Regions from separate parts of the Homo sapiens genome. Here region 2 is linked to region 1. The links come from fine-mapping of genetic effects on gene expression. Tissue or cell type: cerebellum. Region 1 holds a variant in brackets; the other region holds the start of a gene. All regions are shown on one strand. Distances are from middle to middle.

The links. PIP is the estimated chance that this variant, and not a neighbour inherited with it, causes the effect.
Region 2: it holds the start of BEND7, and the variant in region 1 is fine-mapped to the expression of BEND7 in cerebellum (GTEx, PIP above 0.99). The same link has a PIP of 0.9 or more in cerebellar hemisphere and esophagus mucosa.

Annotation. Positions count from the first base shown.
Region 1 is chr10:13,554,658-13,557,416 of GRCh38, forward strand. It overlaps LOC105376422 (a long non-coding RNA gene), which reads left to right. Exons shown (of 3, transcript XR_930675.1): 3 at 2,442-2,513. Among named protein-coding and RNA genes, the nearest start is that of BEND7, 27 kb to the left of the region's middle. The variant G/C (reference allele first, on the strand shown) is at 1,485.
Region 2 is chr10:13,527,704-13,530,462 of GRCh38, forward strand. It overlaps BEND7 (BEN domain containing 7), which reads right to left and starts at 1,311. Exons shown (of 9, transcript NM_001369863.1): 1 at 770-1,311. The coding sequence starts at 830. It overlaps BEND7-DT (BEND7 divergent transcript), which reads left to right and starts at 901. Exons shown (of 2, transcript XR_930674.3): 1 at 901-949; 2 at 2,317-2,561.

The sequences.
Region 1 (2,759 bases):
AGATAAATAAGTATATTGACCAGGCGTGGTGGCTCATGCCTGTAATCCCAGCACTTCGGGAGGCCAAGGTCACGGGATTGCTTGAACCCAGGAATTTGAGACCTGCCTGGGCCACATCGTGAAACCCTATCTCTACAAAAAAATAAAAAATTAGCCAGCTCTGATGGTGTGCACCTGGAGTCTCAGCTACTAGGGAGACTGAGGTGGGAGGATCGCCGAGCCTGGGAGGTTGAGGCTGCAGTGAGCCATTATCATGTCACTGCACTCCAGCCTGTGCAACAGAGCAAGACCCTGCCTAAATAAATAAAAAAGAATATTAATGATAGTAGAGACCAGCTTTCTCATTGTCAGAGAAGGGAATTACAAATATGGAAAGCAGAAAGCAAGAGTGAACCAATAGCTGGAATTGGTGTGAATTCATGGCTTTATAGAAAGATATATACATACGCATACATGTAATTTCTAGTTCTGCCCACTGACAAGACTTGAACATGTCAACACCTCAATATTATTGAGCACACCTAAAGACCCAATCTTGATTTCTGAAAACCATTCTCCACCAAAAACAAACAAACAAAAATATCCGAGGCTTTTTGATGAAATTAATAATTTGCAAACCGGGACAGGGGATGCACAAAATGAGCCTGGAAAGTTTTGTGCAAAAAAATAAGGAAGTCCCCAAAATAATGATGGGGCTCTGTTAAAGGGCATAGAATCCAGTTGGAATGGGCTCCCCGCTGGTCAAATCTGAGACAAACAACATCAAAATTAGTAGTAATCATAACAAATTATAGCCAAGCACGGTGGCTCATGCCTGTAATCCCAGCACTTTGAGAGGCCAAGGCAGGCAGATCATTTGAGGCCAGGAGGTCGAGATCAGCTTGGCCAATATGGTGAAACCCTGTCTCTACCAAAAATACAAAAATTAGCCACTTGTGGTGGCGTGTGCCTGTAGTCCCAGCTACTCAGGAGACTGAGGCAGGAGAATCGCTTCAACCCGGGAGGCGGAGATTGCAGTGAGCTGAGATTGCACCACTGCACTCCAACCTGGGTGACACAGAGCGAGACTCCTTCTCAAAGAAAAAAAAAAAAAAAGTAATCGTAACAAATTATAACTCATCAAATAAAACAGGAACCCATGAGTCCACATTTGGTATAAAGAAATGTATACCAATGTGAATAAATTGTAAGTTAGATGAGGAACAGATATTTACATAGGTTTACCTTACCTCTTCAAAAACTAATATTAGTATTAATTCCAGAGGGAAAAACAGTCACTTACAGTGGAGAATCATGGCCAACACCTTCTTAATCAAATGACCAAACATAATACTAACATAGAACAGGCAAGCCCCAACATTGAGGCTTAGCCCAGAAGGGTTCTTGGCTTTGCCTGGGAAAGAATTCAAGGGTTAGCAGGTGGTGTTAAACAGCAACTTGGCAGCATACAGCAGCAGGAAAGGTGCAGCTCCTTGTGAAGCAGG[G/C]TTACCCCAAAGGCAGTGTGCCAAGAGAAGCAGCTTGGAGGTGGTTCTGCACTAATATTTATGCCTGTTTTAACTATACACAAATTAAGGGGCAGTTTATGCAGAAATGTCTAGGATGAGGGTGGTAACTTCCAGGTCATCAGGCCGTTGCCATGGAAAGGCCTTGTAATGTCCAGGTGTTGCCATGGCAATGGTAAACTGATATGGCATACGGATGGGTGTATCTTATGGAAAGCTGCTTCCCCTGGGAACCTGTTTTTGCTAGTCCTCAATTTGGTCCTGAATCTGAGCCCTGCCTCTGGAGTCAAGTTTTGCCTCCTACCTCAATATCACTGGTAATGGGACAAATAGACATCAGAATCCCCTGATGGAATGCCATGGGAACACAGCATCACTTCCATGATTCACAACCCAAATCTAGTCATGAGAAAACACTGGAAAAACCAAAATGGTGGGATATTCCTCAAAATAACTGTTCTATAGTCATCAGACTTGTCAAGTTCATGAAAATCGAGGAAAGAGTCAAGAACGATTTCAGATGGAAGGAGAGTAAAGAGATATGACAAATAAATGCAACGTATAATTGTGGACTAGCTCCTCTTGTATTAAAGAGATTATTGGGACAACTAGAAATTTAAATAGGGTAAAAGGATTAAGTAGTAGTAACGTATTAATGTCAACTTCCTGATTTTGATGGCAGTGTTTTGACTGTGCAGGAGAATATCCATCTGCAGGAAATATACACAAAAGAATTTGCTAACAAAGCTGTAGGTTTTTGGCTTTCTCCTGTCTGCTAAGTAAGTTACCACTCCATCATCTGTTTTCCACTTTTCTAAATTTTATTTTATTGATTTATTTTATTTTGTTAATAATCTTTATCTGTTATTTCCCCCCCATTCATTCTTTTTGTGTTTATGTGTTTTTTAATTACTCAATATCATTTTTGTTTGGTTTCAGGAGTGAGCAAATAAAAATGCTTCTGTTTAATCTACCATGAAAAACTGGAAGTCTCTCTGAGCTGTCATAAATCACATCACTGTGTGAGTCATAGAAGTAGAAAGTGAAAGGGAAGGTATCATAACTGGAAAAAAAAGCAGCAGTTGGAGAGAGGGGACAAATACAAAAGATATTTATATATCTTTATTTATTTATCGAGATGGAGTTTCGTTCTTTTTTTTTTTTTTTTTTTTTGAGACGGAGTCTTGCTCTGTCACCCAGGCTGGAGTGAAGCGGCGCGATCTCGGCTCACCACAACCTCCGCCTCCTGGGTTCATG
Region 2 (2,759 bases), 27 kb before region 1:
GGCTCTTGAGTTATCATTTTTTTAAAAAAAAAAGTCAAATCAGGAAGATAAAGACTCTTAACAAGTAACTGAACACAGACAAGACTGTATTCCACTTTCCCCTCCCTGACAAAATACAAACCCTAGAGTGTGGTGTACACCTGTTAATTCGTCAGAAACTAGATGGATTTCTTTTCTTTCTTTTCTTTTTTCTTTTTTTTAAAGGATGCTTATCTGACTGCTATATGATCTAGTCTAAAACACCTTTCCAACCCAAATCAGCTAGCTAGAGATGTTGGATGTCAACAATTCCGCCTTGGGCTTGGACACGGCGTGAGCTTCTTTCTCCTTCTTAAAAAGAACAACAACGGTCATCCTTTTTCCTCCTTCTCTTGGCGGGGGGAAGGGGGAAGACCCCAGAAAACAAAAACAGCAAATCTCAGGTCCGAGGGTCCACGCTCGGCCTGATGGCCAGGCAGGTCCGCGGCCGCCCCAGCCCTGCCCCGGAGGCGCCCCGAGGAGGGCTCGGGCCCCCCGGTGTCATTGTTTGCTAATTTCCTGAGCTGCCCTCCGACTTGTTTACGTTAAATAACATCCCTGCTCCCCCCGCACAACTTTCCCCGCCGCCCGGCGTGTGCGGCCGCGGCCCTGCCTGCCAGCCCGGCGGAGGCACCGGGGGACCGGGAAGGACCGGGGGCTCCGGGAGGGCGCGCCCCCCAGCGTGGACCCCCGCGGGCGGCCGAGGGCGCGGCGCCCGCTGCCTGCCCCCGCCGCCCCGGCGGCCGCTTACCTCGGCTCACCAGTTTGAAGCTCTGGGATTTCCTGCTTCTTTTCCTCTCGGAGAACTCCATGGTGCGGGGAAGGCGGCGGCGGGGGCTGAGGAGGCGGCGGCAGCGGCGGCAGCGGCAGCGGCGGCAGCGGCAGCGGCGGCGCGGGCTCGTGTCACCGCGGCGGAGCCGCCGGGACCAAGGTCCGCGCCTGGAGTCGGCGAGGGGAGGCCGCGGGACGGGAGGAACCACCGCGAGCCGGCTCGGGGCTGCAGGCGCGGGGCCCGGCGGCGTGGGCTCCCGGGCGAAGTTGCCCCCGCGCGGCGCCGCCTCCCGGTGCCCTAGGCGCCCCCGCGGCCCCCGCTCATGCCGGCCCGCGGGTTCCAGACGCCGCCCGCCGCAGCCCAACTTTCCGTTGGGAGCGGGCCGGGCCGGGGCGCGGCGGCGGCGGCGGAGGCGGGGGGCGGCTCGGGGCGGCCGGCCCGCCTGGGCTCAGCCTGCGGTCGCGGCGGCGGCGGCGGCGGCCCCGAAGACGCGGCGGGCGGGCTGCGGGGAGGGCGGCGGCGGGTGCAGAGCCGGCCGGGGCGCTGACCGCCCCCGCGGGAGGAGGGGCGCCGGCGGAGGGGGCGGTGCCGCTGGGACCCCAGGGCCACCTGCTGGCGGAGCCCGGCCGCCGCCATCCCCGGGGGCCGCCGCCGGCCTGGCCGCGCGGCGCCCCGAGGAGGCGCGGAGGCCGCGGCGCAGCGCCCTGGCCCGGGCCCGGCCGGCCTGCCTGCCCCCGGGGACGACGCCGCCGCCCGGGCCTCCGCTCGCAGACCCCGCTCGCTGGCCTCCCTCCGCCGCTTGCTGGGCCGAGCTAACTCCGTGCACCTCGCCGTGGGGGCGCGGACCGCCCCGACAACCACCTCCCCGCCCTCACATCCCGGGCGCCCCGGGGCCCGACGCGCTGATTTTAAGCAAGTTTTAGGGGGAAAAAACTTACCCATTTGCGCTCTCTCTAGAAGGACAGAGAGGAGGTTTTAGAATATTGTGGAGAAGAATATAGTAGAGAGCTCCCATTCCCTAACCCAGGCTGGGCGGATTGTGGAAAGAGCCGAGTCACATTCAAGGAGAGCACTTGGAATGGGGGGCTTGGTGGCCCTGGGGACTCTCAGGAGGCCATGGTCAAGGCAGGTGCAGGGCACTATGCTTCTCCACGTCATATGTCGGAATCATGGACCCAAACACAAAGCGCTTAGTAGTTATGTGTAATATTCTTTTCGGGGGATCAGAGAGCGCACTTCAGGCACCATTTCTTTCTCACATCTTTCGAGTGGGCCAGGAAAAGAATTTCACACTACCTGGGAATGGTAGGACAGGAACATGACGGGACATGCGTGAAAGTATCTGCCAAACCCAACCAGGAAGAGGGTAAAGAGTCGGGGGATGGGGGGGCTACCTCTCCGGCACGGGACAAAGGCCAGTGGCCCCAAAAGAGTAGAGAGGAAAAAGGGGAGGTTGACAAATGTGATGAGTGTCACGTGGGTCTCACCCAAATGAGGCAGCCGCTGAGGAACCGCTCTTATTTCAGGGACACAGAGTAGGACAACTGCCGAGGAAGGGGGACATTGAGGCAGCTTGCAGAAACACACATGGAGAAACAGAACCAAAGAGCAGGGTAACCAGCAAACCAGGCAGTGGAGGCAGGGATGGGTACCCATCCCGAGATCTTGGGTGATACCAAAGGCGGCACATCCGGAAGGCTGGTTATACCTAGCGTGGAGGGGAGAGGGAGAACTGTTTCTTCCGTTCAATAAAGCAAACCCTTCAACAAGAGGTTCTTAACCTTTTTTAGTCACTGTTTCCTTTGAGATTGTGTTCAAAGCTCAAGGGCCCTTTTTCCCAGAAAATATGTATGGGACATATAAAATTTAGTATAGATTTATTGGAGTTCTTAGACGCGCTTTGCTGCTCTCAGAAAATTAGTGGTAACAGTGATTAAAGCAACTACCCTATTTGGGTTTCTTCCTTCCC